Linked DNA regions of Homo sapiens: regions 1 and 2 are each linked to region 3. The links come from fine-mapping of genetic effects on gene expression. A gene starts in region 3. Each other region holds a variant in brackets. All regions are shown on one strand. Distances are from middle to middle. Region 1 has its middle 4.9 kb from the start of H2BC13. Region 2 has its middle 22 kb from the start of OR2B6. Region 3 holds the start of LINC01012 (long intergenic non-protein coding RNA 1012).

Region 1 (8,624 bases), 110 kb before region 3:
AGGTGAAATGTACATGAGGTACGTGCATATAGCTACCAACACCATAGAGGGTCCGACCTTTGCGCTTGAGGGCATAAACTAAGTCCTTAGCAGGGACTGCTTTGCGCTTTGCTCGTTCCGTGTAAGTCAGTCAAGCGCATCCGGGATCACGTTATCCGGAAATTCCTTGAGCATCCACGGGTTTCTAAAAAGATGAGACCAGAATGCGTTTGACACCGCCAGGCCAGGCTCCAGGTGGTGGGTCTGGTGATGTCTGGATGTTGCACAGCAACTTGCGGTGGCGCCCCCTTTACCCAATCCTTTCCCTCACTTGCGCAACCAGACATGATTTTAAGGCACGACAAAAGACCCGAGGTAAAAACCAAAAACAGCACTAGGAAAACAAGGCTGGCGTTTTTAATCTTTCCGACTAAACTGGAAACTAGAGGGGTGGGCGCGGTGGCTCATGCCTGTAATCCCAGCACTTTGGGAGGTGGAGGCGGGCGGATCCCTTGAGCCCAGGAGTTCGCAACCAGCCTGGGCAACATAGCAAAACCCCGTCTCTGCAAAAAGCACAAAAATTAGCCAGGAGTGGTGGCGCGCCCCTGTTGTCCCAGCTACTTAGGGGGCTGATGTAGGAGGATGGCTTGAGCCTGGTAGGCGGAGTTTACAGTGAGCTGAGATCGCACCACTGCACTCCAGCCTGGGTGATAAAGCCAGGCCTTGTCTCAAAAAAAAAAGTGGGAGATCAGTAAAAGTTAACACCTTGCCTTCTCCTAATTGTCAATGCCTGCTAGCAAAAGATGCCAGAGTAGATTTTTAAAAGTTTTTCTTGTTTTCACCCAAACCCAACTGTTTTTCGTATACTATTTACCATCCAATTTACTAACATTTATTAAGCATCTACTATTCACCATAGGCCAGTCATAGTATTCTGCTATAGGAATGGAAAATCCTGAATAAGCCTCCCAGACCTTAATTCTCAATCATTGCTGGTGGCCCCACAAATTGGTAGTGCTTTCATAAAGGAAAATTTGGTAATACCTGTCAAAATTTTAAAATGCACCTATCTTTACATCAGAAATTTCACCCCTAGGAATTTACTATTTTTGAAAATATGCAAAATAATATATGCAGGGGTTTCCAGCAGCACTGTTTGTAGTATAAGACTGAAGCAATTTGACTGATTAGCAATAAATTACAGTACATCATTCTATCTAGTAAAAAATAAGAAGGCTCTTTTTCATAATTATTTACTGCTTATCATGTGCCAGATAATGTCCTAAAAAGCTCTCTACATATGTTAAATCATTTAGCTTTCATAACAACTTTGTGAAAAATTACTATTTTTATACCTGTTTTACAGATCATAAAATGGGGGTTCAGAGAGCTCGAGTAAATTGCCTAAAGTGTGAAATTGTACAGTGGGAAAGTTGTCAATCAAAATGAAATCACTAATGTTAAGAAAATCCTGACACAGAGCCAAGAAAAGCCATAAAGAGAAAGTTCTCACGCTTGTATGCCTAATAACAAAAACTATCACAAAAGATGGTAAGAGCCACAACCATAAACACAGGCCATCAAAACCTTACACACACAAAAAATACTTCTACAAGACCATTTGTCCAACAACTGCCTTCCCAACCTTGGACTGGCATCGCCCTTGTTATTGTAACCCTCCTTATTTTTTTCTTTAAAAACCTTTGTCTTCCTTTACCTCCTTGAATACACATGTACTTTATAGCATATGGATTCCCATTACAATGCTTTATTCCCAAATAAATGTATTTGTCTTTAGAGAGCCTCTATGTTTGTTACTTAGGTTGGTAACAGGTAATGAGTAGTGAAAACATGATTCAAAACCAGAATCTGGTTTCAGAATCCCTATTTATAACCAGTGTATACTATACGGCTTCTCCAGGTGCTAATAATGGGATGATTTCCAAAATTTGCTGTCAAATGCAATAAAAGCAAGATACAGGATAATGTGCAGTAGAATTTTGTGTGTGTTTGTGTGTGTGTATAAATGTAAAATATTTTTGGAAGGATACTGGATAAATTGCTATCAGTGGTGGCCTCTGAGGAAAGAGAAAGTTGGATGTCCTACAGACAGGGATGGATGGAGGATCTTTTCATTGTAACTTCTTATGGTCTTTGAATTTTGAATCCTATGTGTGTATTGTCCATCCATAAAAAAAAATAGCGTAAAGAATCACTTCACTTGATTATCAGTAAAACACACATTATAAGATGATAAATGCTGCAGTAGAGATATGAATAAAAAGCCTAAGGAGCACAGAATAAATAATATTATGGGTGGGAGTGGGAAGAGTGCCAAATAGCATTCTGGGCAATAAGAAAATGGGTGTCACCTTCAAAAACGCAGAAATATTGTGGTGTGGCTAAAGTCAGGGGTAGGCAGAAGGGAGCACCCACGGGGCTGAGCAAGTAGTCTGTGACTATGCTACACCAGTGGCCTCCTTCTGTATCACGGCAGGCTTCTCAAAATGAGGACTTCAGGATAAAACAACTAGATATAATCTGAGAAGGACTTACTAAGTGAGATTCTGAAATATTTTACACATAATTCCAGATGCCAATTTAACACTATTTATTTAAATGTTACTTAAATAACATTTATTTAAATGAGCAGACTCTGAAGTTATTTGTTAATCTAGCAGTCATAGAGTTTTCTTTGTTGGTCAGACCATGTGGGAGAAAAAGCAAAAGAAAGTACTATTAGTCTCTTTTAGACTCTTACAAGTATTTGTCACCAGTTAAAAAGAGATATGTCAAATAGAGCATTGTTTTTTGTTTTGTTTTGTTTTTTTGAGACGGAGTCTCACTCTTGTTGCCCAGGCTGGAGTGCAATAGCGTGATCTGGGTTCATTGCAAGCTCCGCGGGGTTCAAGCAATTCTCCTGCCTCAGCCTCCTGAGTAGCTGTGATTACAGGCACGCCCCACCACGCCCGGCTAATTTTTGTACTTTTAGTAGAGACAGGGTTTCGTCATGTTGGCCAGGCTGGTCTTGAACTCCTGACCTCAGGTGATCTGCCCGCCTCAGCCTCCCAAAGTGCTGGGATTACAGGCGTGAGCCACGGCGCCCGGCCCAAATAGAGCATTGTTACCGTCACAATATATAACTAAATAAGCCAATGAATCAAAATTGCACACTGAATAGATATATATCTATGGGATATTCAACTGTGTCTAATATTTGGACATTTTAGAAAATGCTTTTCAAGTTAAGTGATGCTCTGCAATTATCTTAACTTACAACAAACTATTTGGTGGCAGTTTTGGATACTGGTACTACTATGATCTGAATGGTTACCCTCCAAATATTTATGTTGAAAACAAAAACAAGAAACAAATACTTGTGTTGAAGCATAATCCCCATTATGGTGGTATTAAGAGGTGGGGCCTTTGGGAGGTGAATAGGTCATAAGGATGGCGTCCTCATGAATGGGATTAGTACCCCTATAAAAGAGGGAGCTTGTTCACCCCCTGTACCATACGAAGTTGCAGCAAGAAGATGCTATCTATGAAGCAGAGAGTGAGCCTCATTAGACATAGAATATGGTGTCTCCTTGATCTTAGACTTCCTAGCCTTTAGAACTGTAAGAAGTAAAATCCTGTTATTTGTTAGTCACCTAGTTTAGTGTATTTTCTTATAGCGGCCCAAAGAAACTAAGATGCAAAACTCCATATTGAACAGGAGAGAGAAAATCTAACACATCAGATCACATCCTTTGACTGTCTTTGTGAAGGAGAATTGTAATTCCGTAGCTTCAAGGAAGAGAGACCATGCCCTTACATCTGTGTGTGTGTGTGTGTGTGTGTGTGTGTGTGTGTGTGTGTGTGAATGATTTTGTTAATTAGGATTTTATAGGGCCAAGCGCGGTGGCTCCTGCCTGTAATCCCAGCACTTTGGGAGGCCGAGGTGGGCAGATCACCTGAGATTAGGAGTCTGAGACCAGCCTGACCAACATGGGGAAACCCCGTCTCTACTTAAAATACAAAATTAGCTGGGCGTGGGGGCGCATGCCTGTAATCCCAGCTACTCGGGAGGCTAAGTCAGGAAAATCGCTTGAACCAGGGAGGTGGAGGTTGCGGTGAGCCGAGATGGCGCCATCGCACTCCAGCCTGGGCAACAAGAGCGAAAGTCCGTCTCAAAAAAAAAAAAATGTATAGCCAGGCGCGGTGGCTCATGCCTGTATTCCCAGCACTTTGGGAGGCCGAGGCAGGCGGATCACTTGAGGCTAGGAGTTCGAGACCGCCCTGCTCAACACAACATGGTAAAACCCCGTCTCTACTAAAAGTTTTTTTAAAATTAGGCAGGCATGGTGGCTCGCGCCTATAATCCCGGCTACTCGGGAGGCTGAGGCAGGAGAATCGCTTGAATCCGGGAGGTGGAGGTTGCAGTGAGCCGAGATCGAGCCACTGTACTCTAGCCTGGGCGACAGAGTGAGATCCTGTCTCAAAAAAAAAAAAAAAATTATTTGCAAGGCCATGTTCTAAAATTTTATTAGTAGGTATTAAATTATAAGAAGGAGTAGGCCTGAATGGATATTTGACATGAAGAAATATAAAAAGACTGGAAGAGGATTTTATTTCATAACAGGAGAATAAGAGAGCATACGTATCCTTCAACAGGGCTTTATTGTCTACCCTCTAGGTGATACTTCTCTCAAATGAACATTTTGGCTTATTGTCAGGAATAAGGGTATTTTTTTGTTTTTGTTATTTTCATGCTTAACGTAGGTACAGTCCTCAACTTCTTTCATAAAAGCTTTTTTCTAAATTGATTTTTTTTCATTACAACCTCATGTTCCCTTATAAGAACTTACTCTTCAGCCTGTCTCAGAACATATTTACAAGATATGAGCTATAATTGAATAATCATAGCATTTAAGGCTAGAAAACCTTAAGCAACGTCAGTTCATTTGTGCTGCTATAACGGAATATCTGAGTGAGTAATTTATAAAGGAATTTATTTTTCTCCCAGTTCTGGAGGCTGGGAGTACAAGATTCAGGTCCTAGAAGATTCCATGGCTGCTGAAGGCCAGGTCTCTGCTTCCAAATTGGCACCTTGAGTCCTGTGTCTTTGGGGGAAGGTTGTGGGGAGTAACACTATGTCTTCCTATGGCAGGACAAAAAGGGATGAACTCCCTTCCTCTGTCAAGCCCTTTTATAACAGCATTAATTCATTCCTGAAAGCAGAGCCCTCATGACTTAAACATTTTCCAAAAGACTCTACCTCCCAACCTTGTTGCACTGGGGCTTAAGTTTCCAACACATTAATTTTGGGGGACACATTTGTACCATACCAAAGAAGGTCCTGCAAACCTGACATTCTCCCCTAGCCTGCCTTCCTCTGCAATGTTTCCATGAGTGTCGGTTGTTATAACCTGGATGTACTGATGGAATGCTTCAGGTGGGAATTTTATTTATTTATTTATT[C/T]ATTCATTCATTCATTCATTTATTTGAGACGAAGTCTCGCTGTCACCCAGGCTGGAGTGCAGTGGTGCAATCTCTGCTCACTGCAACCTCTGCCTCCCACGTTCAAGCGATTCTCATGCCTCAGCCTCCCAAGTAGCTGGGACTACAGGTGCACACCACCGCACCCAGCTAATATTTGTATTTTTAGTAGAGACGGGGTTTCACCATGTTGGCCAGGCTGATCTCAAACTCCTGAGCTCAGGTGATCCGCCCACCTCGGCCTCCCAAAGTGCTGGGAGTACAGGCGTGAGCCATTGCACCAGGCCTTTTCAAGCAGAGATTTTATTGGGATGCTTGCATCTGAAGGATATATTCACAATAACAAAACTTATAAGAAAATAGTAAAGCTAGAACTCATTGTGTTAATTATAGTGGAAGATGTGCCTGGACTTAGAACTGACCACAAATTGTTAATCAGAAATTGCTTTAGTAAGTAACAAATCAAAGTAAATGAAACAGCCTGGTTACTAAGGAATAGTTTCATAATTTTGAATGGGATTAAAACTTGTCTCTCTTACTGTTGGTGGAATCCTGTCTTAAACAGCCACACAGGCAATCTAGCATGAACTAATAGTCCTTCCTTGGTTGGTTTTGGGCTGCAACTCATTGATAATCATCATGCTTAGTTTGCCTTTGTTCCAATTCCAAGCAGGCCAACCACTTTCCCATGTACATATTGTAACCACCCAAGGGGTTAACCTTGCCCGCTGCCTAGACAGAGCTGATTCATCAAGACAGGGGAATTGCAATAGAGAAAGAGTAATTCACACAGAGCTGGCTGTGCAGGAGACTGGAGTTTTATTACTCAAATCAGTTTCCCTGGGCATTTGGGGAGCAGAGTTTTTAAGGATAACTTGGTGGATGGGGGGAAGCCAGTGAGCCAGGAGTGCTGAATGGTCAGAGATTAAATCATAGGGAGTTGAAGCTCTCTTCTTGTGCTGAGTCAGTTCCTGGGTGGGGGCTACAGGATCAGATGAGCCAGTTAATAGATCTGGGTGGTGCTATCTGACCCATCTTGAGTGCAGCGTCTGCAAAATATCTCAAGCACTGATCTTAGGAGCAGTTAGGGAGGGTTAGAATCTTGTAGCCTCCAGCTGCCATAATTTTTAATCTTGTGGCTAATGTTAGTCCTACAAAGGCAATCCAGTCCCAAGGCAAGAAGGAGGTCTGCTTTGGGAAAGGGCTGTTACCATCTTTGTTTAAACTATAAACTACAAACTAAGTTTCTCCCTAAATTAGTTCAGCCTACACCCAGGAATGAACAAGGATGGCTTGGAGGTTAGAAGCAAGACGGAGTTGGTTAAATTCCATCTCTTTCTCTGTCTCAGTCATAATTTTGCAAAGGTGGCTTCAATATCTGTCATTAAATTGCTGGAATGTTACTTTATTTTGCATTTGACTATTTTTTTTTTAAATTTTTATTTGAGATGAAGTCTCGTTCTGTCGCCCAGGCTGGAGTGCAGTGGCACGATCTCTGCTCACCACAACCTCCACCTCCCAGGTTCAAGCGATTCTCCTGCCTCAGCCTCCCGAGTAGCTGGGATTACAGGCGCGTGCCACTGCACCTGGCTAATTTTTTGTGTTTTTAGTAGAGATGGAGTTTCACCATGTTGGCCAGGCTGGTCTTGAACTCCTGACCTCAGTTAATCTGCCCGCCTCGGCCTCCCAAAGTGCTAGGATTACAGGCGTGAGCCACTGTGCCTGGCCCGATTATTTAATATCTGAGAAACATAAGAGGCTAAGAAAAGCTTTGAAAGAATGTCATCTATTTTATTTATGCTTATATTATGGCCAGGTTATATTTCTTTTTCTTTTTTTTTTTTTTTTGAGATGGAGTCTCACTCTGTTGCCCTGGAGTGCAATGGTGTGATCTCAGCTCACTGCAACCTCCACCTCCCGGGTTCAAGGGATTCTCCTACTTCAGCCTCCCAAGTAGCTGGGATTACAGGCACGTACCACCACGCCCGCCTAATTTTTTAAAAGTTTTTAGTAGAGACAGGGTTTCTCCATGTTGGCCAGGCTGGTCCCGAACTCCTGACCTCAGGTGATCCACCTGCCTCGGCCTCCCACATTGATGGGGTTACAGGCATGAGTCACCGTGCCTGGCCAACCAGGTTATATTTCTATAGCCTCTCCAAATTCTGGGAACGAACCCCACTTGAGGCCTACAACACTAAATTCCCACATCCCCAAAAGATGTACTCAAATATTGGAGCAGTTAGCACAGTCCAGACTATCAAATGTGTTGACCTGAAATCTATTTTCTGTATGGACAAGAAGACTACAGACTGAGAATTTTAATAGAAGATATTGCCATTCATAAGAATTGTGCTGCAGGAAGGAAAAGAGACGAGAAAACCTACAAGCTTAACCAAGAAAATGGATCTAACCTTCCATTCAGTGGCCCCCAGATCTTCCTGTTCCTTTCCATGCAATGAACAAACATAGGAGCTAGAACCTGGTTCCTTGGTGTAAAACAAACAAACAAACAAAAAAACAACAAAAAAAAAACAGCCAAAACTGAGGATCTAAGGTCATCTTGACCTTTGTGAGATCACCACAAAGAAACAAATGCCATTTTGTCCACTGTGTGATCACAAACAAGTCAGTGACACTCATTATACCAGTTTCCTTAACAGCAAAATAGGGGTGAAAATCAGCCTCATTTTATCAGGAAGTTGTATGATTGAATAAGACAATGAATAAGATATATGTAGGACAGGCATGGTGGCTCATGCCCGTAATCCCAGTACTTTGGGAGGCCGAGGTGGGCAGATCACTTGAGGTCAGGAGTTCAGGACCAGCCTGGCCAACATGGTGAAACCTCGTCTCTACTAAAATTACAAAAATTAGCTGGGCATGGTGGCACATGCCTGTAATCCCAGCTACTCAGAAGGCTAAGGCAGGAGAATCACTTGAACCCGGGAGGCAGAGGTTGCAGTGAGCCAAGACTGCGCCACTGAACTCCAGCCTGGGAAACAGAGCGAGGCTCTGTCTCAAACAAACAAACAAACAAACAAAAAAGACATATGTAACAGGGAAATAATTATCACCATGCATTAAGAGGAAAAGAATAATATAGAAATTACTGCAAATTATATTTATAAGTGAGGAAAATCACTCAGAGCCAGTAATTTTACCTC
Region 2 (8,624 bases), 290 kb before region 3:
TCATTTCTAATAATACTAATGAAGTTTATAGACTTAAGTATAGATTGAAAGTTGAAGCAACTTAACAATGCGGGTGAATATTTCTGGAACCATTTAGGGCAATTTAACCATTTGTTTAAAGTTGCAATGACTTAAGGAGGAAGAGTAAAAATCTGGGAGTTATTCCTGTTCAGTTGGAGGAAGCTGGTTGTTTCCTTAGTCTAATGATACATTCTGATAGGTGAGGCTGAGCAGTAGTACAACCAGGGTGGCAGTGGGTCTGCAGTCATCCCTCTGCCATTCCCAAATCCCACCTCAGGGGAGCCTGCCTCAATAGCTACCTGTTCTCAACCACATTTGCTTTCAGACACCTACATAGATTGTCGTGTCTTTTTACAGTTAAAGAAAATTTTTACATTGATGGCAATATAGTATTAATTACTATAAAAATAACCCCATGAAATTTATATAATAATTCAGATTTTGCAGCTAAATAACTCAGGAATGAGAGAAATTAGGTAGCTTGGGGAAAGATGTAAATTTAAATATGGCAGAGCTGGGATCCAACTCTAATGTTCAGTAACTAAAATATCTCTGCTCTTTCTTCTTCCACTCTTTTTTGAAATAAAATACATATTGTTGAAGACCAGAAAGGAAAAAGGAGGATGTTTTCTAAAACCTAGGGCTAAATCTAAATGTAAACAATAATTTTATCCACTGTAAAAAATTAATGACAAAAGTCTATCCACAGGAGAAAAGGTTTTTTTAAATTTCTGGGTCATTTTATAATTTCATGAAAACCAGTAGGCCGGGCGCGGTGGTTCACGCCGGTAATCCCAGCACTTTGAGAGGCTGAGGCTGGCGGATCGTCCAAGCTCAGAAGTTCGAGACCAGCCTGGGCAACATGGTGAAACCCCATCTCTACCAAAAAATACAAAAATTAGTTGGGCATAGTGGCATGCGCCTGTAGTCCCAGCTACTAAGAAGGCTGCGGTGGGAGAATCACTTGAGCCCAGGAGGCGGAGGTTACAGTGAGCTGAAATCATGCCATTGCACTCCAGCCTGGGCTACAGGAGTGAAATCCTGTCTCGAAAAATAATAATAACTTCATGAAAACCTGCATCTACCCTATGGAAAGATTATAACCTACAAATGAAGTATTGAGCTGGAGTGTTTAAGAATTAGTTTGATCACACATGTTTGAATTAACTAAGAGTTAACACCATCTGGACAGATCATTTTCAGTGATATGAAAGTTAGTTTTGGCCACAACATGTTGATTATACCTCTAACTCTGATTATACCTCTAAGTCAATTTTATAAAGATAAAATCTTGATAGTATTTGTTCTTGGTTTTAAAGAGTGTCTGCCTCAATATGCCCCAATGTATCCAAATAAATAGTTAATCACTCCCTTAATGCAATTAATTTGATCAGTCTAAAAAGAATTAGGGCCAGAGGTAACTTTTTATGTGGGACTCAAAATCCTACCAGTGTTACACATTACAAATATTTATGATTTGCAGACATAACACATTCATTGGCAAGTAAGTGCAATAAATTTACAAGTTATTTTGCCAAAATATGTCAAGTAACATTTTTTTCACTTGCACAAAAATAAATATATCATCTGTGCAATAGAAATATCTGACTGAAAATTTCAAAAATAATTTAACTTTTTTTAGGTTTCTTAGGCAAGCATATGTTTGATGTCACAGAATAATTAAATTTCCTCATTGTATTATTCCATGATAATCTTTACATGGGCTCTTTAGATAATATTTTTGAAGAATGTTCCCATAGTCTTATAACATAGAGGTATATATAGCAGAGACACTAGCTGAGGGCATTACAAATTATAGTCAACATAGATTTTTGTTTTTCAGAGAACCAATCAATTCTGGAATTTTAGAAACAGTTACTATACAAGGTGAAACAGAATTTTTTATTTTTCTTCATAATCATGAAGAAGAAGATATTGGCACTTTTAACAAGAAACCAGAAGAAAGAAGCTACTTTTTATACTTAAAAAGTAAATATTTCCTGGGCGCCATGGCTCACTCCTGTAATCTCAACACTTTGGGAGGCTGAGGCAGGCAGATTGCTTGAGCCCAGGAGTTTGAGACCAGCCTGGGCAACATGGTGAGACCCCATCTCTACAAAATATAGAAAAATTAGCTGTGCATAGTGGGGCACACCTGTAGTCCCAGCTACCAGGGAGGCTGAGGTGGGAGGATCACTTGAGCCCCAGTAAGTTGAGGCTGCAGTGAGCTGGATTGTGCCACTGCACTCCAGCCTGGGTGACAAAGTGAGACTGTCTCAAAAAAAGTAAATATTATTTAAATGTTCTTATCAGTTATAATTGTGATATTTATTTTTACACAGAGTGAATGTGAACAGCTATGTCTTTGTGGAGGTTTGTGAGCCGTCCTCTCTTCTCAAGCTGATAACTATTATTTTTAATAAGTCTCATAATGATGAGTGATATTCTCACATTTTGGATTTATTCATTTTAGTGACTATTTCCACAAAAATGATCTCCTCTTACAATAAAATACTCTAGTAGAAAGAGGTTTGAATTAGTTTATCCTTTTAAAAAAACTACTAAAGATACTAAGAACTTCTGAGATCCAACAGAAGAATTTCTTTGGCAATGCAGTACAGATGCAGTAGATAGTTCTGTTGTGAAAAATTCTGAACACATTTACAGGGAGTATATATACCATGAATAAAAGGGAGATCTTATAGGATCGACAATCTACAAAATTTATTTTAGAACTGATACATGGCACTCATTCCATATTCATATTTCTTCTGTTACACCTTTACAAATTATTTTAGTTGGATTTTAGGCCTCGAATAGCAAAACATTTTTTTTTATTCTCGGTCTTAAGAATACTGCCAATATGTTATTTCAAGACAAATACTCTGTAAAACACAGAATATGAAAAATGAACATGGCTTTTTAAGATATTAAATTACTATTGATGTCTTCTGAAACAAATACAAAAAGCAGAGAAGTAGAAGCTGTTTGGAAATCACCAAATCTATAACACGTATTATGGGGGCTTGTACATTTATCACAAGAATAGAAATTCTAGATGTCCCCTAACTTAAATCTCTGTAGCTTTAAAAAATGGTATATGCAACTCTGCACCAGAGACAAAAGTAAGTTCATTTAAAGCATTTTTTCCACCTGCTCATTGCAGTAACTTCATTAAAAGTAATTTCTATTTTCAGTGTAAAATTTGGTATTATGTAAATATAATCACTCCCACTGGCCTTCATAACTTTCCAGCACATCTATGAATTGCAAACATATATTTTCCCACTTATATTTACAGAAGCTTTTTTAAAAAATATTTTTGCTGGTTTTAATGTTTAACAATGGGAAATGGGTAACAAATAGGGAATAATGAACTTGAGACCATAAAGAAATTGCATGAGAGAAAACCATTTTAATGAGGGGAGAAATATCCTTCTTATGCCAATCCAAAGAGGATTGGATGCACTGTTGTCACATGCATGCCAACGCTGCACTGTTGTTGTAGACACAGCTGGGGGTGCATAATGACCATATAGCACAAAGGTTTTGCAGACTGCAGCATAGCAGGGATTTTAGCAGTAATTTTATATCTATATGAGAGCCAATTCACCTTTCTTCTGGAACTGAGAATGCTGCACTGTTGTTGTCATCAGATATTTCTATTGCACAGATGATATATTTATTTTTGTGCAAGTGAATAAAATGTTACTTGACATATTTTGGCAAAATAACTTGTAAATTTATTGCACTTACTTGCCAATGAATGTGTTATGTCTGCAAATCATAAATATTTGTAATGTGTAACATTGGTAGGATTTTGAGTCCCACATAAAAAGTTACCTCTGGCCCTAATTCTTTTTAGACTGACCAAATTAATTGCATTAAGGGAGTGATTACTTATTTATTTGGATACATTGGGGCATATTGAGGCAGACACTCTTTAAAACCAAGAACAAATACTATCAAGATTTTATCTTTATAAAATTGACTTAGAGGTATAATCAGAGTTAGAGGTATAATCAACATGTTGTGGCCAAAACTAACTTTCATATCACTGAAAATGATCTGTCCAGGTGGTGTTAACTCTTAGTTAATTCAAACGTGTGATCAAACTAATTCTTAACTAACTCTCAAACTAATTCTT[A/G]AACACTAATTCTTAGACTGTGGCAGAATTCATCATAATTTCTCTTGAGTTTATAATGCATATTTAAGAAAAAAAGTTTTTATTCCAAAAATATGGGGATGACTTTTGATACCCATGGTAAGAAATTCCTTAATGACTATTTTTTTCTCTTATTGTATAGTTTACATTGAATTAAGAAAGAAAAGTATAAAACTTTTGACAATAGCTTTAAACTGAGACATTATATTGTTATAGATTTATTTGTAATTTTGAAGAACAGAGACAGAATTAGATAGTGGCATCAATTAAAAAAGAAGAAATAATTTATGGAAGAAATAATTAATCAGTTAAAATTAATAATCACCCCAAGCTACTATTGATCACTTACTATCTGCAAGGCACTTTGATATCAACTTAATACCTGGAATGATGCTAAGAGAGATTAAGAAAATAAATAGCCCTACCATCAAGGAACTTACAATCTAGTAGGATACATGAGAAATACATAAGTATAATATGGAGTAGAAAACCTGTCATTTCAGTGTATAAAAATGCCATATGTTAAAAGGAGTGCTAGAACATTTTTAAATCAAAGATTCTCAGACAATTTTATAAGTATGTTGCATTGAGCTGACCACCAAAACATGGAAAAGATTTGGATGGGGAGTTTGCATGGGACAATGTGGAAATGGCTGATATTAATAAGTGGTGAGAATTCTCTCAGAGAGTCTATTAGCATATCCCTCATGCTTGAAGGATTGTACAAACTGATGAAACAAACAGCCTGGGGCTGATTATTGAGTGATCTATGCACCAACACTCTATAACAAAGACAATATTATTCAGTGGTTAACAGCAAAGGTTCAGGCATCATATACACCATTTGCAAATCCCACTTATTCTCTGTGTGACCCAGGTTAATTAAGAGGCTTGAGACTATATACTTAGTGTTGTAACATGAATAAGATACAGGATTTAACTTACAGGGAAAAATTTATGCTTCAGTGAAAAATTATGCATTGTCCAGATTCTAGAGGACATCCCTTTGAACAATCTGATTCTGATTCTGTGGCAGATATTTTACAATTTTGTAAATTATTAACTGATAGCAATGTAAAATAATTCTTGTCTATGACATACAAATTCAGTCCTGTTGGGTAGAGATTGAATTTACTTCCTTCTCCCACAGTGGAAGAAGCAAGTTTAGCCTCTATTTGCACATGCATTTCCACATTGATTTACTCCTTATAAATTTGTGCTTCTTTGACTTTTTTTTGAACCACTTATTACATCTGTGTGGGCCCCTCATTGATTGAGTTGAATAAAAATCTTTAACACATTTATTTTATATCTATATGAGAGTCATTTCACATTTCTTCTGGGACTTAATTCTTTTTACTAAATATTATTAGGCTAAGACTTATTCATATCAAGTGTAGCTATGGTTGATTCATATTGATTTTGGATATACTTCAGTGTATTTATTCATACTTTAAAAATCCAAGAATGTTTGATACATTGGCTAGATTTCTTATAAGCACAAAATAAATGTATTTGGAAAAGATATTTTGCCTAAGACTTCACAACTTATCATATTTCTCCAGTTCATTATTGCCTCCCCAAAACCTTCTTCAGTGCTCCTTTCACCTCCTTATTCCTTAAAGTATAGATGAGCAGATTCAACATAGGAGTCACCAGGTTGTAGAAGAGAGTGAGAAACTTGCCTTGGTCTTGGGAAGAACTGTTTCCTGGCTGCATATACATATAGATGATGCTCCCATAAAACAGGGAGACCACTGTGAGGTGAGAGCTACAGGTATGGAAGGCCTTCCATTGCCTGGCAGCTGACTTGATGCTTAGCACAGCTGCAGCAATGTAGCCGTAGGAGACAAGAATAAGAGTGAGGGGCAGTAGGACAATGAGAACGGCAAAAGCAAAAGCCAGCATTTCCACTGCACGAACATCCAAACAAGCCATCTTGATCAGTGCTGGCTTTCACAGAGGAAATGGTTAACTCGGCGGCGGCCACTTCTGGAGAGGGTCATTGTTAGTGGTGACATGACAACGGCATTGACCAGTCCACTCCCCCAGGCTGCAGCCATCAGTCCTAGACACAGCTGGAGGTGCATAATGACCAGATAGCGCAACGGTTTGCAGACTGCAGCATAGCTGTCATAGGCCATGACAGCCAGAAGGATGCACTCAATTCCCCTGACAGAAAGGAAAGAGAAAAGCTGGACAACACAGCCAGCACAGCTAATAGTCTTGTCAGGGCCCCAGAGGTTTACCAGCATTTGTGGGATGCAACTAGTACTGAAGCAGAGATCTAGAAAGGAAAGATTTGCCAGAAAGAAGTACATTGGGGTATGAAGTTGAGAGTCTAATATACACACAAGGATTATGGTTGAATTTCCCAGCACAGCCACTGAATACAGAATAAAATTTACTGTAAAGAGCACCATCTCCAGCTTGGGACGATCAGAGAAACCCACCAAGATAAAACCATACACTGAGCTGACATTGGATTTTTCCATTGCCTTCCTTTCACATCATCTGTATAGCTAGTAGGGACAAAATGAAGAATATTTAATCTGCAATATGTGAATACCATTGAATGTCAGGATTTGGGGGGGACATATAACTATCAAGCCTAACAACCCATTCAATAATTGTAGCATATCTTCTGCCCAGCTAGCTATATAAGCTGTTTATCATTTGTTCAAACACATAAGGCAAAGTGTTTCATTGTTGGGAAATTCTTATTTATAATCCTCTTTTTATTAAGTAGACATTTTCTCCCTATGATGCACAAGACAAACTATTTTAAATTTATTGAATACACATCAATCTAATACCTCTTCCTATTACATCATTAACTGTTTTTTTGTTTGTTTGTTTGTTTTTGAGACAGGGTCTTGCTCTGTAGCCCAGGCTGGTGTGCAATGATACAACCTCAGCTCACTGCAACCTCTGCCTCTCAGGTTCAAACAATCCTCCCACCTCAGCCTGCTGAGTAGCTGGGACTACAGGCGCACACCACCATGCCCGGCTAATTTTGTTCATGTTTTTGTAGAGATAAGGTCTCACTATCTTGCCCAGGCTGGTATCAAACTCCTGGCCTCAAGTGATCCTCTTGCCTTGGCCTCCCAAAGTGCTGAACTGAATGGATGTTGGCCAGGTGTGAGCCACTGCACCTGGCCAATATCCATTAACCTATTATAGGCATTTACTACATCTTGACTAAATTTTCTGTAGTCTAAGACATTCACTTTCCTTCAACTGTTCTTATAAACAAGGTTAGCAAATGTATTGTCACCTAATAGCTGTCTTCTACATGCCCTCAATGTTGACAATGACCTGAAAATGTGACACCATGGCTGAGCTCACTACTTGCATTTTTGAAAAACACAAGACACAGGGAAATTACTGCCCACCATGAGCTGAACTATTATGATCTAATTACTGTGGCATAAGTATGCATCTACTTTACAGTGTTAATGTTATCTTTTCACTTAGGTTATAACTGTATCTACTAAATATCACAGTTCTTTATTCCCGTGAAATACTTACTGTCAACTTTGATCTCTACAATTCATGTCTTTGTAAGCAAGAGAATTTTGCAACCAAGATTGCCAAAGTCAGGGAGCATATTCTGTCCATTAATAAAATGGCAATTTTGAATATATTTTATCTTCAGTTAGCCTTTTGCAAATGTTAAAAAACAATGTGATTAGCTTACAGAGGAGAGGTGCACGGCAATAGGGACGAGTAGAGACAAAGGGAAGGAGAATGTGGTAAATAAAAAGGAATTTAAAAAGCATCATTTAAAAACATAAATTTAAAAAATGACCCTAACATGGCTAAGAAGAATAAAGTCAGATCGATTCATAAAGACACACACTCATAACTGGGTTAAAGGATACTAGGATAAAAGTGAAATAACAGAGAAAAGGAGAAGTGTGAAAATAGCAGAACAGCAGGTACAATATGGGTGTGAAATATACCTCACACTACAATGCAATCTACAGAATTAAGGGCTGCTTCTAATTAGTATATTCAATTAGGAAATGAGAAAAAATAAATACAGAGTAGGACTTAAATTTTTATCACAGATATTTTGATTTTCAAATGAAAAACTTGTCTTTGGTGAAAACGTCTTGACATTGACGTTCTTATAGTAAATTTATTTTCCATAGTCAAATACAGTATACCAAAGTAAAAGAAAAATTTCCCTATTTTCTCTGGTCATTTAGGCTTACCTGGTTTCAACTTTCCCAAAGTATACAGGAAGAAGAAATGTTCATGTTATTTCCTCTGGCTTGGATTGTTATCTAGGATTTTGTGGAAGATTATGTGGTTAATAGAAATAGAAAGTAACAGTATGATTATGATACGAATGCACCAGAAATCATATGGAAGTGATTACAATGATCTCAACTTGTCAAGAAACAAGGTGACAAGCCCCAAACTCTCTTCT
Region 3 (8,624 bases):
ATACAAATGAAGACACTGTATATTAATATAGAAATCTCTTAAGATAGAGTGTTGTGAAAAAAGTTGGAAAGTATGCCACCTAACAAATAAATAACAGTGAAAATAGCCGGGTGTGGTGGCTCACACCTGTAATCCCAGCACTTTGGGAGGCCAAGGTGGGCAGATCACCTGAGGTCAGGAGTTCAAGACCAGCCTGGCCAACATGGCGAAACCCAGTCTCTACTGAAAATACAAAAATTAGCTGGGCCCAGTGGTGCACGCCTGTGATCCCAGCTACTCAGGAGGCTGAGGCAGGAGAATCGCTTGATCTCTGGAGACAGAGGTTGCAGTGAGCCGAGACTGCACCACTGCCCTCCAGCCTGAGTAACACAGCCAGACAACCTCTCAAAAAAAAAAAAAAAATATTCTATCATTCTTTTTTTTGCAACAGCTTCCAGGAAGTCAGCTTTCTTCTCCTTTCACTAGCTTTTCTCTTCTTCCCTCTACCATAAGCACATACATACAAGATTACTTTCAATGTCAGTAAAAATATTCTTTTAAAAGCCATTTTTTTTTTTTTTTTTTGAGATGGAGTCTCGCTCTGTCACCCAGGCTGGAGTGCAGTGGCGCGATCTCGGCTCACTGCAAGCTCCGTCTCCTGGGTTCACAACATTCTCCTGCCTCAGCCTCCTGAGTAGCTGGGACTAAAGGCGCCCGCCACCACGCCCGGCTAATTTTTTGTATTTTTAATAGAGACAGCACTTTGGGAGGCCAAGGGGGGGCGGATCATGTGTTAGCCAGGATGGTCTCGATCTCCTGACCTCGTGATCCGCCCGCCTCGGCCTCCTAAAGTGCTGAGATTACAGGCGTGGGCCACCGCGCCCGGCAAAAGCCTATTTTGAAAGAGGTTTCTTATTTTCTTATTTTTTTTTTCTGAGACAGGGTCTCACTCTGTCACCCAGGCTGGAGTGCAGTGGCGCGATCTCGGCTCACTGCAACCTCCGCCTCCCGGGTTCAAGTGATTCTCCTGACTCAGCCTCCTGAGTACCTGGGATTACAGGTGCAGGCCACCATGCCTGGCTAATTTTTATGTTTTTAGTAGAGACGGGGTTTCACCATGTTAACCAGGATGGTCTCGAACTCCTGACCTCATGATCCGCCCCCACCTTGGCCTCCCAAAGTGCTGGGATTGCAGGCGTGAGCCACCGCCTGAAAGAGGTTTCTTTTAAGAGTCTGTTTTTACCAGCCAATGTCAACTTCCTTCCTCTCATGAACTCTACCCCTTCCTGGCTAGATTCTGATCATCCTGGTGTATTTGTCACAGACCCAAAATACAAATCTCTAGTCAACAGTATAGAGCTCTTCATGGCTTCCAAAACAAGGCATATTTCCTTCCTAGAATGTTCCTTCTCTGGAATCCCCGTGATTCACTCCTCATTCCTTAGTCTTTGCTTAAATAATGGTAAAGTCTTCCGCATTCATCCTATTTAAAACTCAACACCCATTCCTCACTCTACCCTACTCCATATTGCCCTTCTCTGATTTCTTTTTCTCCACAATACCATCACCTGAGAAACTGTATTTTCCTCTAGAATAAACTCCACAAATATGGAGATGCTTGTCTTAAATGAATAAAGCCATGTCTATTCAAAACCAATTAGTCAAAATTAGTATCATATTCTTGGTTACTATTTTTTCATAAACTGTCAATTTGGTGTAACCTGGTTCTCATATCCCATTCCCCTTTTCTAGACATTCCTTTAATCAACATACTACTGAAGCTTTCCTTTTCTTTGTAATAATTTTAAAAACCCAGGTCTTTGTGATTGCAATGCTTGCTAGAGGCATCATGCAGGAAATGGCAGAAAACGGGTCCTCTTATATGCTGAACCAATAGTTCATGGAATGGTTGTGGGGGGGTCACAGATCTTGTAATCTGAAGTGCCCCATTGACTAAAAAGTAAAAAACACATGGCTGGGCGCGGTAGCTCACACCTGTAATCCCAGCACTTTGGAAGGCCGAGGTGGATGGATCACCTGAGGTCAAGAGTTCGAGACCAGTATGGCCAACATGGTGAAACCCCGTCTCTACTTAAAATACAAAAAATTAGCTGGGCGTGGTGGTACACACCTGTAATCCCAGTTACTCAGGAGGCTGAGGCAGGAGAATCGCTTGAACCTGGGAGGCAGAGGTTACGGTGAGCCAAGATCGCGCCATTGTACTCCAGATTGGGAGACAAGAGCGAGACTTCATCTCAAAAAAAAAAAAAAAAAAAAAAAGTATAAAACACAGGCTTTTATGTTATACAGACATGAATGAAAATCCTTGGTTCTGTCACTTACTAGTTGTGGGATGTTGGACTTATTACCAGGTTAAATCCTCTAAGCCTCAGCTTTACTGTGGTTAAATGGATATAAAAATATCCAATCTCTCTAACAGAGTTGTGAGGATTAAATAACAAAATTTGTAAACCTATTTAATAGTACTGGGCATACAACTCCTCAATAAATGTTATTACAATCACTGCGACAGAACAAAGATCACTGGAGGAATATTTCCAAATCGTTAGAGGTTTTAAGATCATCACAACTGTAATCCCAGCACTATGGGAAGCCGAGATGTGTGGATCACTTGAGGTCAGGAGTTCGAGACCAGCCTGGCCAACATGGGGAAACCTCGGCTCTACTAAGTAGCTGGGCGTTGTGGCACACACCTGAAATCCTAACTACTTGGGAGGCTGAGGCAGGAGAATCGCTTGAACCCGGGAAGCAGAGGATGCAGTGAGCCAAGTTGGCACCACTTCACTCCAGCCTGAGTGACAGAGCTAGACACCATCTCAAAAAAGGAGCACCACTGAACTTTGTAACATTAACTGACAGAAAAGACACTAGACACTAGAATTCTATGAGCCCCCAGCAGTGTCAGAAAATCCTCTTACATGTATTTTGTTTTTTGTTGAAGAAAAAAAACTTAAACAGAGAAATATTGCTAGATTTCTTAGATTAGATAAGGATAAAATGAGAACTATCTTATTCTACTCGTTCCTTGTATTATTCAAGATTCAGTACCCTGCTGGTAAGTTTCATTCAGCGAATCCAGCACACATGAATTAAATGCTAGTTAAGGTACAATGTCTCCAACAGGCACGATGTCAGAATAATGGTTTCTGTCCATCAGAACAAAGGATGAGATGCGCCTCTTGGATTTGACTGTAGCCCAATGGTCATCATCGCTGGCTGCACATTAACATTATCCAGGAAATTTTAAAGCTCTATAGGTGATTCTAAGGAAGAGGAGGACTGAGAGGCCGACTGTTAAGATGCACTGCTACTGTCCGATGAGCACACACTCATCCATAACGTTACACATTTCCTATTCACCTGATGCCCAGAATCATCAAACAGTGTATTCAACACAGTCACGCCATTTCTGTTTTCCAGGTGACTATCCTCCACAAGATACTGTTATCCAGAGCAGGTAAACTCCCTAGCATCTGTCGCTCAAGAACTTAAATCCCTCCCTGCACCCAACCCATCAACAGTGACTTATTACCATCCACAAGCCAGGCTGCTTCCCGATGCACCTTTTCTCCTGGGGAGTGCCCAGACGAGCGCCATCTGCTCCTGGGTCAGAGGAGTCCCTGCAGAGTCATCGACTTCCTCATTTCCAAAAGCCCCATAGGTTGCACTGGAGTCCCGAGGCGAAGCGCCGACACTTCATCTGCCCGTCACCTCCCGATTTTTGCAATGTGTTTCTTCTGAACAAGAATGTGTGCCCTGGAAGCCAACTCAAGTCCCAGACCTAGGTTTCTCGACATTTCCCCAAGTCCCACCTGCGTCAGGTTGTAGGCTCCGGGGCCAGTCCCTTTCGATCCGCATCAAAAAACCTGGCGATCCCCTTTGGGCACAAGAGCTCAGGGCGTTGGTCCCCGCGATCGCGGAAGCCCACTTCCAGAAAAACTCGACCACTAACAGTAAGCTTCAGGGGTAGCAAAAAGGGGCAGAAGGGTTTGCATCCCCTGGCGTCATTTCCGGGTCCGCTCTGGAAACCTCGGAGGTTTCCGTGTCTCTGTCGTTTATTCCAACTGTTAATGCTCCATGTGCCTTTGACTCTCCTCACCTTCCCTTCTAAACACACGGGGAAGAAAGGTTCAGGTTTCCCAGAGAAATTGTGGGGAAAAACCTTTAAAGTATATATACAAAGGTAGACAGAATAGTACAGTGCATCCAATGTACCTGACACACCTTCAAGAATTACTAACTCGGCCGGGCGCGGTGGCTCACGCCTGTAATCCCAACACTTTGGGAGGCCGAGACGGGCGGATCACAAGGTCAGGAGTTCGAAACCAACCTGGCCAACATAGTAAAACCTCGTCTGTACTAAAAATACAAAAAACTAGTTGGGCGTGGTGGCGGGCGCCTGTAATCCTAGCTACTCGGGAGACTGAGGCAGGAGAATCGCTTGAACCTTGGAGGCGGAGGTTGCAGCGAGCCGAGATGACACCACTGCACACCAGCCCGCGCGACAGTGCAAGACTCCTCTCAAAAAAAAAAAAAAAAAAAAAAAAAAAAGAAGAAGAAGGCCTGGCGCGGTGGCTCACGCCTGTAATCCCAGCACTTTGGGAGGCCGAGGTGGGCGGATCACCTGAGGTTGGGAGTTTGAGACCAGCCTGACCAAAATGGAGAAACCTTGTTTCTACTAAAAATAAAAAGAATTAGCCGGATGTGGTGGTGCATGCCTGCAATCCCAGCTACTAGGGAGGCTGAGGCAGGAGAATCGCTTAAACCCAGGAGGCGGAGGTTGTGATTAGCCGAGATAGCGCCATTGCACTCCAGCCTGGGCAACAACAGCGAAACTGCGCCTCAAAAAAAAAAAAAAAAGAAAGAAAACAAGATGAAAGAAAAGAAATACCAACTCGTGGCAATTTTATTAATCTATAAACCACTCCTCCCCTTATGTGGTTGGAAGCAAATCTTTTTAATTTTTTTTTTTTTTTGACGGAATCTTGCTCTGTCGCCCAGGCTAGAGTGCAGTGGCGCGACCTCGGCTCACTGCAACCTCCACCTCCCGTGTTCAAGCGATTCTCCTGCCTCAGCCTCCTCAGCCTCCCGAGTAGCTGGGATTACAGGCACCCACCACCGCACCTGGCTAATTTTTGTATTTTTAGTAGAGACGAGGTTTCACCACCTTGGCCAGGCTGGTCTCAAACTCCTGACCTCGTGATCCACCCGCCTCGGCCTCCCAAAGTGCTGGGATTACAGGCATGAGCCACCAAGGCCGGGCCACTCCACTTTTCCTTAAAGCAAAACCTGTCATTCTTCTGTTTCTTACCTCTTAGTTTCTTAGTCCTTTTTTTCCTATTAGCCCTATTTGTATTTATTTGTTATTAATGCACTATGACTAATAAAAACTTGCCTAGGGTCAGAAACTTTGAGCTTTAGCAGAAACAAAAACATACAAACAAAAACTCAGAAAGTTTTTTCAGATAAAGTTTTGTTTTTCAAGTACAATTAAGAGCATGATTCTGCTCAGGCGTGGTGGCTCGCGCCTGTAATCCCAGCACTCTGGGAGGCCGAGGCAGGCAGATCACTTGAGGTCACGACTTCGAGACCAGCCTGGCCAACATGGTGAAACCCCAACTCTACTAAAAATACAAAAACTAGCTGAGTGTGGTAGCGGGTGCCTGTAATCCTAGCTACTGGAGAGGCTGACGCAAGAGAATCTCTTGAACCAAGATAGCGGAGGTTGCGGTGAGCTGAGATCCCACCACTGCACTCCAGCCTGGACAACAGAGCAAGACTCCATCTCAAAAAACAAAAAACAAAAAACAAAAAAAAAAAAGAAAGAAAGAAAAGGGAAAAAAGCATGATTCTGAACAGTTTGGTCATTTTAGAAACTTTTGGGATAAATCTGAATACTCAGAGTTTTCTCTGGCCATAAAATAGAAGATAGGAAAAATGTAAATTTTTATTCATATGGAGAGAAAAGTCACAGTTGTCCCTGTATTATCTTTAAGAAAGCTCCTGTTCTTAATTCTCTAACTAACTGTAATAATATCTCGAAGGACTATCTGTAAAACAAAAGGAAACAACCACCTGTTAAATTCAGAATTCCAAAACATGTAGTTGTATCTCCTGTGTAATATAAACATCCATCTCATGGCCTTGCTTATTAATCATTCTTTAAAAATTATATATAAATTGGTTCTATGACCACTGTAAAAGTACCTGCATTTTGTTTGTTACATAGAAAAGTTTAAGGTTCAATGTAATCTTTAAGGGACCTAAATTGGCATAATAATATTTTCATAATTGGGAGGAGGGGTTATGACTTTCCTTCAATGCATGGGGAAAAACCACTTTGCTGCTTGTGGCAGCAGTATTAACTATAGTTGTAAGATTAGACAGCTTAAGGGTAATACCAACACCAGATGTGGTAGAACAGTGCCAATCACAGAGAAAGAGTCAGAGTACCTCTGTAGTTCCTGTCACGTGAGATGTATTTCTGTCCTAAGCCAATTGGATTATTCTTCCTTTTTCCCATTTTTATTTTTTATTTCGCAGCTGAATGATACATTCTAATGCAACATCCTTAACACTTACCAAGTTCTCAATTAAATCTATTCTGCATGATCCCCTCCTGTCTGGTAAATCTGGTAAATCTTCTCTGAGTCCTTTAGCTTCCTGCTCCCGTATGGATTAGTTGCATTCTAGGTTTCTTGAATAGCTGTCATCCTGTGTTTTTCATTTTTGAGCTCCTAGATCAGATTCATCATTTCCTGAGTTCCATGTCTTTCTCTGTCTTCCCCCCTATTTTCCCTGTAGTATATATATTCAGTTTGCGTCTTAAAATGTAGGTCAGCTTTTTGAGTCATGATAGGTTTATAAATGTCTTTATTCCAACTTCACATTTGATGTTACACATAGCTATAGAATTCTGTATTAAAACATTTTTCCTCCAGATTTTGAGGCATTATTTTGTTTTCTCCTAACATTCATTCGAGGTTGCTGATGAGACGTCTGATGCAGAAAGAGTATCTTTCTCTTGCCCACCACCATTACCTCTGAAAGCTGTTAGAATCTGATGTCGTTTGCTTTCAGTCTTATTCCACCGTGAGCAGGTCTATACAAGTCTACTCCTAAAGGCTGAGGAAGCTGAGAGGCCAAAGAAAGAGGCTGACAAATTCAGTTTCTCAGAAAGAAACATTTAATAACAGAAGCCATGTCTTGAGTGGTAGCAAGACAAGATGATGGATCCCCACATTGTCACCAGCCAAACCCAGGGCTTATGAACCACAGGGAATTTGCCTAAGGGCAGGATTTTTTTTTTTCTTTTCTTTTGAGACGGTCTCCTTCTGTCGCCCAGGCTGGAATGGCCAGATCTTGGCTCACTGCAACCTCTGCCTCCCAGGTCAAGCGATTCTCTTTCCTCAGCCTCTGGAGTAGCTGGGACTATAGGCACGCCCCACCATGCCCAACTAATTTTTGTGTTTTTGGTAGAGATGGCATTTCACCATGTTGGCCAGGCAGGTCTCAAACTCTGGACCTCAAGTAATCTGCCCACCTCGGCCTCCCAAAGTGTTGGGATTATAGGCATGACATACCGCGCCTAGCCTAAGGGCAGGATTTGTGTATGGTAAGTATGTGGTTACAATAACACCAAGGTTGTTTTCACCTAATTGCAGGATTTATTGTACCTCAAAGTAGAAATCTTAGAGGCATTCCCAGAACTGGGGTTAATCAGAAGTCAATATGGTGGGTTACCATCCAAGATGGAGTGGCTTTCAGCTGGGCACAGTTGCAGTTGGCCAAGATCATGCCACTGCACTCCAGCCTGGGCAATAGAGCTACAGTGTCTAAAAAAAATCTATATCTATATCTATATATATATATACACACACACACACACACACATATGCACACACACACATATATACATATATAATATTCATGCACACACATATTTTTGTACTCTAGTTTGTTACTTAACATTATTTCCTTCATATCTTTTCACTAGAGACAGCGGATTGCCACACCGAAGAGTGAGAGATCAATAAATGTTTGTTGAAATTATATATAATTTCCTTTGATTATTGTACAGCTTGGGAGCCCATATTCAAACCTCTTTGATGATCATATGGTCTAGGAAAGAAAGTGCTTTGTTCACCTTATAAGAGAAAATTAAGGGTATCGTCTTCACCACCCTCTTTCCTACGATGAAAAAGCCTGTACTTTGTACAGTGGACAAGAAGTATCTATATTCAATTCCTGGCTAGTAGGATCAACTCATTTGAAAATAAGCTGATTTTTTTTTTTTTTCAGATGGAGTCTCGCTCTGTCGCCTAGGCTGGAATGCAGTGGCATGATCTTGGCTCACTGGAGCCTCGGCCTCCCTGGTTCAAGCAATTCTCCTGCCTCAGCCTCCCGAGTAGCTGGGACTACAGGCGCGTGCTGCCACACCCGGTTAATTTTTGTATTTTTAGTAGAGACAGGGTTTCACCATGTTGGCTGGATGGTCTTTATCTCCTGACCTCGTGATCCACCCGCCTAGGCCTCCCAAATAAGCTCTGCTTTTAACAGTGTACAAAGTTGAAAAGTGCAATTTAAAACATCTAAGATACATTAAGAAAAAGTGTAAATGCAGA

The links. PIP is the estimated chance that this variant, and not a neighbour inherited with it, causes the effect.
Region 1: its variant is the best candidate, but not a certain one, in a credible set for the expression of LINC01012 in caudate (GTEx, PIP 0.61).
Region 2: its variant is the best candidate, but not a certain one, in a credible set for the expression of LINC01012 in esophagus mucosa (GTEx, PIP 0.72).

Annotation. Positions count from the first base shown.
Region 1 is chr6:27,798,746-27,807,369 of GRCh38, reverse strand. It overlaps the pseudogene H4C10P. Among named protein-coding and RNA genes, the nearest start is that of H2BC13, 4.9 kb to the left of the region's middle. RefSeq lists enhancers at 1-135, 136-736. The variant C/T (reference allele first, on the strand shown) is at 5,443.
Region 2 is chr6:27,975,207-27,983,830 of GRCh38, reverse strand. It overlaps the pseudogene OR2W4P. Among named protein-coding and RNA genes, the nearest start is that of OR2B6, 22 kb to the right of the region's middle. The variant A/G (reference allele first, on the strand shown) is at 4,169.
Region 3 is chr6:27,689,415-27,698,038 of GRCh38, reverse strand. It overlaps LINC01012 (long intergenic non-protein coding RNA 1012), which reads right to left and starts at 4,004. Exons shown (of 4, transcript NR_038294.1): 1 at 3,533-4,004.